Linked DNA regions of Homo sapiens: region 2 is linked to region 1. The links come from fine-mapping of genetic effects on gene expression. A gene starts in region 1. The other region holds a variant in brackets. All regions are shown on one strand. Distances are from middle to middle. Region 1 holds the start of VN1R1 (vomeronasal 1 receptor 1). Region 2 overlaps ZIK1 (zinc finger protein interacting with K protein 1).

The links.
Region 2: its variant is fine-mapped to the expression of VN1R1 in thyroid (GTEx, PIP above 0.99).

The regions. Positions count from the first base shown.
Region 1 is chr19:57,454,724-57,460,105 of GRCh38, reverse strand. VN1R1 (vomeronasal 1 receptor 1) reads left to right here and starts at 2,966. Exons shown (of 1, transcript NM_020633.4): 1 at 2,966-5,316. The coding sequence starts at 3,620. The coding sequence ends at 4,681. It also overlaps the pseudogene VN1R107P.
Region 2 is chr19:57,585,585-57,590,966 of GRCh38, reverse strand. It overlaps ZIK1 (zinc finger protein interacting with K protein 1), which reads right to left. Exons shown (of 4, transcript NM_001010879.4): 3 at 2,302-2,428; 4 at 1-956. Among named protein-coding and RNA genes, the nearest start is that of ZIK1, 4.1 kb to the right of the region's middle. The variant G/A (reference allele first, on the strand shown) is at 2,241.

The DNA of each region.
Region 1 (5,382 bases):
ACAAATGTGTTGGACTTGCTGCTTGTGTCTGTATAGGACAAAGACTATGGAGCCACTGACCCACACCAAGAAGCCAAAACTCAAAAAGTCAGGAGAAAAGTATATAATTGTATATAAGGTGCCAAATATTTCTTGCATTGCCCAGGAGCAGACTCCATAATTGTTTTTCACACTAAGGTTTTTGCTGTTCAGTGGGCTGTTATTAAAACGTCAAGAAACAACAGATGCTGGCAAGGTGGTGGAGAAATAGGAATGCTTTTCCACTGTTGGTGGGAAGGTAAATTAGTTCAACCATTGTGGAAGACAGTGTAGCAATTCCTCAAAGACCTAAAACCAGAAATACCATTTGACCCAGCAATCCCATTACTGTGTATATATCCAAAGGAATATAAATCATTCTATTATTATCATTCTGTTATAAGGATACATGCATGTATATGTTCATTGCAGCACTATTCACAATAGCAAAGAAATGGAATCAACCCAAATGCCCATCAGTGATAAAGAAAATGTGGTACATATACACCATGGAATACTATGCAGCCATAAAAAGAATGAGATCACGTCCTTTGCAGGGATATGGATGGAGCTGGAAGCCATTATCCTCAGAAAACTAACACAGAAACAGAAAACCAAACACCAAATGTTCTCACTTATAAGTGAGAGTTGAGCGATGAGAACACATGGAGACAGGGAGGGGAACAACACACACTGGAATATGTCAAAGGGGTCGGGGGATGGAGCACATCAGGATAAATAGCTAACGCATGCTGAGCTTAATACCTAGGTGACGGGTTGATAGGTGCAGCAAACCACCATGGCACACGTTTACCTATGTAACAAACCTACACATCCGGCACCTGTATCCTGGAACTTTAAAAAATTAAATTAAATTGGCGCGGTGGCTCACGCCTGTAATCCCAGCACTTTGGGAGGCCAAGGTGGGTGGATCACGAGGTCAGGAATTCGAGACCAGCCGGGCCAACATGGTGAAACCCCATCTCTACTAAAAATACAAAAAAAATTTAGCCAGGCGCAGTGGCAGGCGCCTGTAATCCCAGATACTCAGGAGGCTGAGGCAGGTGAATCGCTTGAACGTGGGAGGTGGAGTTTGCAGTGAGCCGAGATAGCGCCACTGCACTCTAGCCTGGGCAACAGAGTGAGACTCTGTCTCAAAAAAAAAAAAAAAAGAAAGCAAAGAAAGAAAAAAAAATTAAATTAAATTAAAAAAAAAAAGGAAAATCTGTCTGAAAATTCTCACCAGTTACCAACACTTCTTTCTGAGGCTAGGAGGAGAAGGAGGTGGTATGTTAAAGTCAATAATCACACTAACTTTATACATACAAGAAGCTTTCAAAATAGTCATAGTAAAAATGGTACTTTATAAGGAGAAGCTGAAAAAATAGGAAACCAAATGCATATTGGAAATAAATTATACAACTAGGACAATGGAGCAAAATAAGAGATTAAAGCAAAGAATCAGGAACTATCTTGAAAATAAATGATGAGTTCATATAAATAGGAAAAACATTTGTCAACAAGTGGTTTGTGGGAATCTAAAAGGTTTTCATACCTCAGAGCCTGAGTTTTTTTTTTTTTTTTTTGAGACCGAGTTTCACTCTTGTTGCTCAGGCTGGAGTGCAATGGCATGATCTCGGCTCACTGCAACCTCCGCCTCTGGGGTTCAAACGATTCTCCTGCCTCAGCCTCCCGAGTAGCTGGGATTACAGGCATGCGCCACCACCTCTGACTAATTTTTGTATTTTTAGTAGAGACGGGGTTTCTCCCTGTTGGTCAGGCTGGTCTCGAACTCCCGACCTCAGCTGATCCACCAGCCTCGGCCTCCCAAACTGCTGGGATTACAGGCGTGAGCCACCTCTCGCCTGAGAATCTTGATACTGCTGTGTTATTGATTGCTCCACCCCTAAAGAGATGTAGTTATTCATGGGAGAAAATACCTCATAATTTTCCCTGATGATAGCAATTCCATAGAGACACCAAAAGAATCTAAATTATGGCCGGGCGAGGTGGCTCATCCCTGTAATCCCAGCACTTTGGGAGGCCGAGGCGGGCGGATCACGAGGTCAGGAGATCGAGACCATCCTGGCTAACACGGTGCAACCCCGTCTCTACTAAACACACACACACACACACACACACACACACACACACTAGCCGGGCGTGGTGGTGGGCGCCTGTAGTCCCAGCTACTCAGGAGGCTGAGGCAGGAGAATGGCGTGAACCCAGGAGGCTTCAGCCTCCCGAGTAGCTGGGACTACAGGCACGCACCACAACACCCAGCTAATTTTTGTATTTTTAGTAGAGACGGGGTTTCACCATGTTGGCCAGGATGGTCTCCATCTCCTGACCTTGTAATCCACCCGCCTCAGCCTCCCAAAGTGCTGAGATTACAAGCGTGAGCCACCGTGCCTGGCCGCAGTTACTATTTCTTTTGTGATTGATATATATGAATATTGTGCAATGAAATTCCCTCCCAATTGAATTATCTTTCCCTAAAAATAAACCCAAGCTTTCTGGAACATATTGAATTTCCTATTTAACAAGTTTTAAGGATATCTTAGGTGTTTCTGGGATTAGTATTTATTTTCAGGATCTTTTGCATTTACTTGTGAGAAATGGCATTGAGATAAAAATGTGTGGGCTCAAGGTGGTCATGGTTATTTCTACGGAGTCAATTCACAATCTCTAGACCTGTCCGGTGGAAAATAACAGAAATATATGTGCTTAAAATAAAATATACCATGATGCAATGTTGATTGTTCCAAAAATTATAGTTTTTAAAAATTCTTCAAGTTAGCATTTGTACTGTGCTGAAGGCCTTGTTACCAATTGTATTGTAGCGTTTTTTTAATTTCTTTTTTTTTTTTTTTTGAGACAGAGTCTCGCTCTGTCGCCCAGGCTGGAGGGCAATGGTTTGATTTCAGCTCACTGCAACCTCTGCCTCCCAGGTTCAAGCGATTCTCCTGCCTCAGCCTCCCGAGTAGCTGGGACTAGCACGCGCCGCCATGCCCGGCTAATTTTTGTATTATTAGTATTTTGTATTATTAGTAGAGACAGGGTTTCACCATGTTGGCCAGGATGGTCTCCATCTTGGCCTCCCGAAGTGCTGGAATTACAGGTGTGAGCCACTGCACCCGGCCTAAAATTTGTTTCAATGCATCAATAACAATGGTGTTTACTAAAATATTAGTGTGGAAAAGGTTTTATGGTGTATTATTTTTGCTTTTCATATCTCCAGGCTACTTAATTGAAGGTTTTATTGAAATAAGTGTAGACTCACAAGCAGTCATAAGAAATAATACAGAAAAAGCCCTGTCCATATTACCCAGGGTTCCGTCATGATTACATTTTGCAAACTATAGTATAATATCACTCTAATGATATTGACTCTTCTGTGTTCTGTTTTTATATATTTCCCTAGTTTTGCTTGTATTTACTTGTTGCATGTGTGTAAGCCCTGAGTTTTATAGGTTTGATTTGTGGATCTGTTGTGCGGTTGAGCCCTCATTCATTCACCTGCTTCTCTGCAGTTGGACACACAAGCAATTGCCTTTGCACGAACAGGGACAATCTTAATTTCTGTTTAAGATGAGAAAATATGGTTGGAGACACATTAAAACTTCTGTCTCCACTGATGACAAGATACTTCTTTCTGCTTTTTTATTCTACTGATTCTTCAGACCTCAATGAAAATCAACATCCCCTAGATTTTGATGAAATGGCTTTTGGAAAAGTAAAATCAGGGATTAGCTTCCTCATTCAGACTGGAGTTGGGATCCTGGGAAATTCCTTTCTCCTTTGTTTTTATAACTTAATTTTGTTCACTGGACACAAGCTGAGACCCACGGACTTGATTCTCAGCCAACTGGCCTTGGCTAACTCCATGGTCCTTTTCTTTAAAGGGATACCTCAGACAATGGCAGCTTTTGGATTGAAATATTTGCTGAATGACACTGGATGTAAGTTTGTCTTTTATTATCACAGGGTGGGCACAAGAGTTTCCCTCAGCACCATCTGCCTTCTCAATGGATTCCAAGCCATTAAGCTCAACCCCAGTATATGCAGGTGGATGGAGATCAAGATTAGATCCCCAAGGTTTATTGACTTCTGTTGTCTCCTCTGCTGGGCCCCCCATGTCTTGATGAATGCATCTGTTCTTCTATTAGTGAATGGCCCACTGAATAGCAAAAACAGTAGTGCAAAAAACAATTATGGATACTGTTCTTACAAAGCATCAAAGAGATTTAGCTCATTACATGCAGTCTTATATTTTTCCCCTGATTTTATGAGTTTGGGCTTCATGGTCTGGGCCAGTGGCTCCATGGTCTTCTTCCTCTACAGACACAAGCAGCAAGTCCAACACAATCACAGCAACAGACTCTCCTGCAGACCTTCCCAGGAAGCCAGAGCCACACACACCATCATGGTCCTGGTGAGCTCCTTTTTTGTTTTCTATTCAGTCCATAGTTTTCTGACAATTTGGACAACTGTAGTTGCAAACCCAGGCCAGTGGATAGTGACCAACTCTGTGTTGGTCGCCTCATGTTTCCCAGCACGCAGCCCTTTTGTCCTCATCATGAGTGATACTCATATCTCTCAGTTCTGTTTTGCCTGCAGGACAAGGAAAACACTCTTTCCTAATCTGGTTGTCATGCCATGAGTCTTTTCTCTTCATGGAATTCAGCTATTTATCATAACTCTTGCTAAGATTTAGGAAATATTAACTACTAGTTATTTGTGATAGCAACATACACATGGCCAGTAATGCTCTTGTCCAGGAAGATCTAATACCAGAGCTAAAAATGAAAGTCATGGATACTGTTACACAAAGAACACTCTATATAACTGTGTTAAGTCCTTCAGACAAGTTCAGGAAATCAAAAAGTTTAAAAAGGGAATTCTTTAGAGATTTAGGGGAGATTTCTCATTTTTGTACTATGAAGAATCATGGAATGTTTTAAAAATATTTTTAAAGCACAGTTTGATTCAGGTGCTTCTTGAACAGCATAAATCCCCTGGAGAGTCCACATGTAAGAAAGACATGTGCAGGCCGGGCACAGTGGCTCACGCCTGTAATCCCACCGTTTTGGGAGGCTGAGGCACTCCCAAATGCCTCAAGTGATCCACTCAAGATGACTTGAGGCCAGGAGTTCGAGACCAGCCTGGCCAACATGGCAAAAACCCTGTCTCAAATACAAAAATTAGCCAACCATGTGGCACACACCTGTAGTCCCAGCTACTCCAGAGGGTGAAGCACGAGAATTACTTACCAGCTTGGGTGACGGAGGGAGACTCAAAATAAAAATAAAAATAACTAAAAGTGGCTGGGCACCGTGGGTCACGCCGGTAACCCCAGCACTT
Region 2 (5,382 bases), 130 kb before region 1:
CCCACACTGGCCACACTCATAAGGCTTTGCTCCAGTGTGAATTCTTCGGTGTTGATTAAGAATGGCACTTTGACTAAAGGAATTCCCACATTCACCACACTTATAAGGCCTTTCTCCAGTGTGAACTCTTTGGTGTTTAACAAGGGTGGCTTTTTGGCTAAAGGATTTCCCACACTGGCTACACTCATAAGGCCTTGCTCCAGTGTGTATTTTCTGGTGGTCAACAAGGCTGGAGTTTTGTCTAAATAATTTTCCACATTCGCTGCACTCATAAGGCCTTTCTCCGGTGTGGATTCTCCGATGATCATTCAGGTGGGAGGTTTGGCTAAAGAATTTTCCACATTCATTGCACTCCCAAGGCCTTTCTCCAGTATGGACTCTCTGGTGCTGAACAAGTGAGTACTTGCCACGGAAGGCTTTCCCACATTTGCTACACTCATAAAGCTTTTTTCCAGTGTAGACTCTTGGATGGTAAACAGGAGTGTGTTTGTGCCTGGAAGCCTTCCCACATTCACCTGACTTGTAATGACTTTTTTGACTGCGAATGTCCTCCCCACATTCAGTAATTGTGCCGGGTTTCTTGCCTCCAGGAAAGACCAGGGACCTCAGAAGCCGCAACATGGCTGGAAGGTCCTTTCCAACCTCCCATTTGCGAAAGGGCTTCAATGACATACAGAATAGGCAGCACTTCACATATGAGGCTCTGTCCATGTCCCTCTTCAAGGATTTCTTTGCACTGTGATGCTTCTGGTGCTGGTGATGGTTTGTACATTCTCCAACCAAGTATGGTTTCTGCCCAGGGAGATCAGCTAGATGCAAAATATCTTTCAGGACTGGGACACACATCTCACAGGATTGAGTCTTCTGTGTGGATGAACCTGCCTTTGACTGTGACACTCCTACAGAAACATTCTGGTCAGAAGGTGTCTCTTCATCCTCTGTTCCATGGCCACAACCTGAAAGCAGAGAACCGCTGATGAAATATACATTGACTATGCTGAGAGCAAGAAGCCCCATTACACACATACCAAACGAATGATTCACCAGGTTTGTTTTGAGGATAATGGAGCTGGGGGCAAGTTGAGGAAGGGGTTGCTTTGCAATACTGGATCTCTAAAGATCACAGAATGAGGGAGGCCTCACCAAATAAAGGACACAAGGATGGGATGAAGGACAGGGAATGGCATTGCCTTCAAACCATTCCTCTACCAACAGCCTCAAAAATTATCCTTGAGTAGCCTTCCAATTCCTAAAACTCACCACATAGTCTTCAGGAGGACCTTGTCTGCTGGTGACACCTGCATGCTGTGCAGAAGGTTGACTGTGCCCAAGCCCAGGAAAATACAATTGAAACTGAGTAGCAAGTGATATGATCACATATCTTCATGTGGTCATATATACATACTTCATGAGACATTATGTGTGTGTCAATGTTGGAAAACATTGCAGAGGGAGCAGTGCAGAGAAGCAGATGATGCATGAAGATCAGAAAGGTGGAGGTAGCCAGGTGCTAGAAGTCATAGATAAAAATAATAAGAGAGAGAAGTGTCAAGTACTGAGAAGAAAATATAGAAATGAGATTTGGCCAGTGGCATGTGCACCCAAACAGTGGTGAAGACAGGACAGGCTCCTTATGTGATCGGAAAACAGCCCGGATATCATGCCCCCAACCAGTTGCCACTCAACAAGCCCAGGCCTTCTCTGAGACCATGTTCACCCTATAAAGCAACCAGGTTTCTCTGCACACCCTCAGTTGTCTAGCTATGTGGGACCTTCATGAAGCCAAGTCCTACCAGAAAGACAGAACATGTGAGTGATCAGCACTGATGCAGAACGACTCAGCACACAACAGCCCATGGGCAAGAAAGTTAATATCATTAAACAAACAAACAAACAAACAAACTAGAAGGAGTGAGTAAGAAGAGCCCATTGTCCCCATAAGTATAGACAATGACAATGACTACAATCATGACACAGGTAGCCACAAGAAAATGTCAGCTAGCAGATGGGGGTGCAGGGAACTTGGGACACAAGGTGTCATGGATCTGAACACAGACACCCAGCCAAGAAGAGAGCAAGGAACAGAGATCCATTTGGCTGACTGAAGAACACCTGCTGCCCAGTGGCAGGTGTTCCCAGACCACTGGGCAGCAGGTGTTCCCAGACCACTGGGCAGCAGGTGTTAGGGCTACTCAGGCAGTGCACAGTGCTGGATCCCATAGCACATATCCCAAGAAAGT[G/A]GAGAAGTCAGCAAAAGACCATAGACAGACCAGGACACTGGAGTTGGTATTAGGGCCTTACCCAGTGAGGCTACAAGGGCAAAGTTCTCCAGCATCACTTCAAGGTACAGGAGTCTCTGAGCCTCATCAAGAAGTCCCCACTCGTCCTGTGAGAAGTAAATGGCGATGTCCTCAAAGGTCACACAGCCCTGTCATGATGGGGACAGGTCACTCCACAATCAACGCCTCCACAAGTTCATCCACCCACGCAATCATCCCCACCTTAAGGAAATACAGGCCCTGGTGACACAGATGCCCACTCTCTTTTCATGGTCCCAATGATCACTGTATCCTTCTACAGCACCAACCAGGAGGTGGGCAGGATGCACCACATCTAAACTTTGGGCCCGGTATGTAGGAGTGTATCCCTTCTTGTCAGGCAGTTCCCCAAGGGTCTTTCAGATAGTGCCTCCTAGACACAATCAAATGTGGCTTCACCTTTGACCCTTAAGTCCTCAATGCCAGGGGCCTGGGTCCTTCAGTTCACACTCCCTCTCCATGTACACATCATTCTTTGAACCATACTCGCTCAGTCTCACTCCCACGGCTACCTCCACCCCTCTGCCTGCCAAATTGAGACATCATCCAGTGCTACACAGACCTCTGATGGTTCCTACTGTCATAGACAGCCCCCACCCTGCTCTGAAGGGCTATCTTCCTGACTCTGTTCCTTGCTTCAACCTCAGCCACCAAGAATCACCTGATGTCAGACACCGATGGCCGTCCTCCACTTGTGCTGCACTTGATGTCCCCTCTTCAATCAACAACCTTCTTCTCACCTCTTAACCCTCATTCAAAATCAGTGGCCTCAGTGGCACAGACTCTCAGTGGCTCTCTACCTCCAACCTAATGACTCATACAGATGAACACTTGTACTCCTAAACTTATTCAACTGCTTGACTCACACCCTCCCCAGACTCACCAAGGGTCACAACAAATTCCTGGCGAGTTTTTACCATGGTGAATAAGCACTAGTCCTAGTGTTTTAGTCAGTTTGGCCTGCTAGCATAATACCACAAACTGGGTGGCTTATCAACAACAGAAATTTATTTCTCACAGATCTGCAGGCAGGAAGCCTGAGATCAGAGTGCCAGCATGGTCAGGTTCTGGTAGGGACTCTTTCCAGGTTGCAGACTGCTGACTTCTTGTATCCTCACTTGTTGGAAAGAGCACTAGATAGTAGCTCTCTGGCCTCTTTGTTTAAGAGCACTCACTAATCCCATTCATTAGGGCTCCACCCTCATGACCTAATTATCTCCCAAAGGCCCAACCTCCAAATACCATCACACTGGAATTAGGCTTTAAGCATATGAATTTTGCGGGGACACAGTCCACTGTACCTGGCCTCAGTGTCATCTTCTACCAATTATTTCTTTATCTCCATGTCTGTCTTATGTCCCTAATGCCTTGGAAGCCTTGACCACTTATCAGATGATATGATTTGGCTGCGTCCCCACCCAAATCTCTTCTTGAATTGTAGTTCCCACAATTCCCATGTCATGGGAGGGACCTGGTGAGAGGTAATCGAACCATAGGGGCAGGCCTTTCCCATGCTGTTCTCATGATAGTAAATAAGTCTCACAAGATTTGATGGTTTTATAAGGGGGGAGTTCCCCTGAACAAGTTCTCTCTTGTCTGCTGCCATGCAAGACATGCCTTTCACCCTCCACCATGATTGTGAGGCCTCCCCAGCCACGCGGAATCATGAGTCCATTAAACCTCTTTTTCCTTACAAATTATCTAGTCTCCAGCACATCTTTATCAGCAGCATGAAAATGGACTAATACAGTAAATCAGTATGAGTAAAGTGGGGCTGTGCTGTAAAGATAACTGAAAATGTGGAAGCAATTTTGGAATTGGGGAACAGGCAGAGGTTGGAACAGTTTGGAGGGCTCAGAAGAAGACAGGAAAATATGGGAAAGTCTGGAACTTCCTAGAGACTTGCTGTCTTTATCAGCAGTGTGAAAATGGACTGATACACCAGATCATCCTCTTTCCTACAATCTTCCCATGACCACTTTTCTCTCACAACTGTTTGTGATGCTCACCACCTCTACCACGTGTCCAAGCATGAGACACAGTCATAGCCCCAACCTTCCCTTTTCTGTTTTTTTGTTTTGTTTTTGAGATGGAGTCTCACTCTGTCACCCAGGCTGGAGTGCAGTGGCGTGATCTTGGCTCACTGCAACCTCCGCCTCCTGGGCTCAAGCAATTCTCCTGCCTCAGCCTCCCTAGTAGCTGGGATTACAGGTGCCTGCCACCACGCCTGGCTAATTTTTGTATTTTTAGTGGAGACGGAGTTTCACCATGTTGGCCAAGCTGGTCTAGAACTCCTGACCTCAAGTGATCCGCCTGCCTCGGCCGCCCAAAGTGCTGGGATTACAGGTGTGAGCCACCACACCCAGCCCTTTCCTGCATTATAAATAGCATTATCTTCAAGACCAGGATTACCCACTCCTAATTGTGACCCATAGCTACTCTGGGCCAAACACTGGCCACCACCTTTTGGATTTCTCCATCTTAAACCACTTCCAGAATTCTAGATGTACATGGACAGCTACTCACCTGATGTCTCCATATATCATTCTTTGGAATATCTCAGACTATGATAATAGCTAAAGACAAAACTCCTGTTATCCTTAATGAAAATTAATTGGCTGGGCATGGTGGCTCACGCCTGTAATCCCAGCACTTTGGGAGGCCAAGACAGGTGGATCACCTGAGGTCAGGAGTTTGAGACCAGCCTGGCCAACATGGTGAAACCCTGTCTCTACTAAAGATACAAAAAAAAAAAAAAAAAAAAATTCGCTGGGCATGGTAGCACGGTAGCATGTGCCTGTAGTCCCAACTACTCAGGAGGCTGAGGCAGGAGGATTGCTTGAACCCGGGAGGTGGAGGTTGCAAAGAGCCAAGATCGAGCCACTGCACTCCAGCCTGAGTGACAGAGTGAGACTGTCTAAAAATAGACAAATAAATAAATAAAATAAAAATAAAATCAATCCTATAACATGCTATTTGATGGAGATTCCATCCTTCCAGATGCTAAATTCAAAATGCCTGGAGTAATGCTTGACCAGTATCTCTTACCCTCAAAATCTGAAAA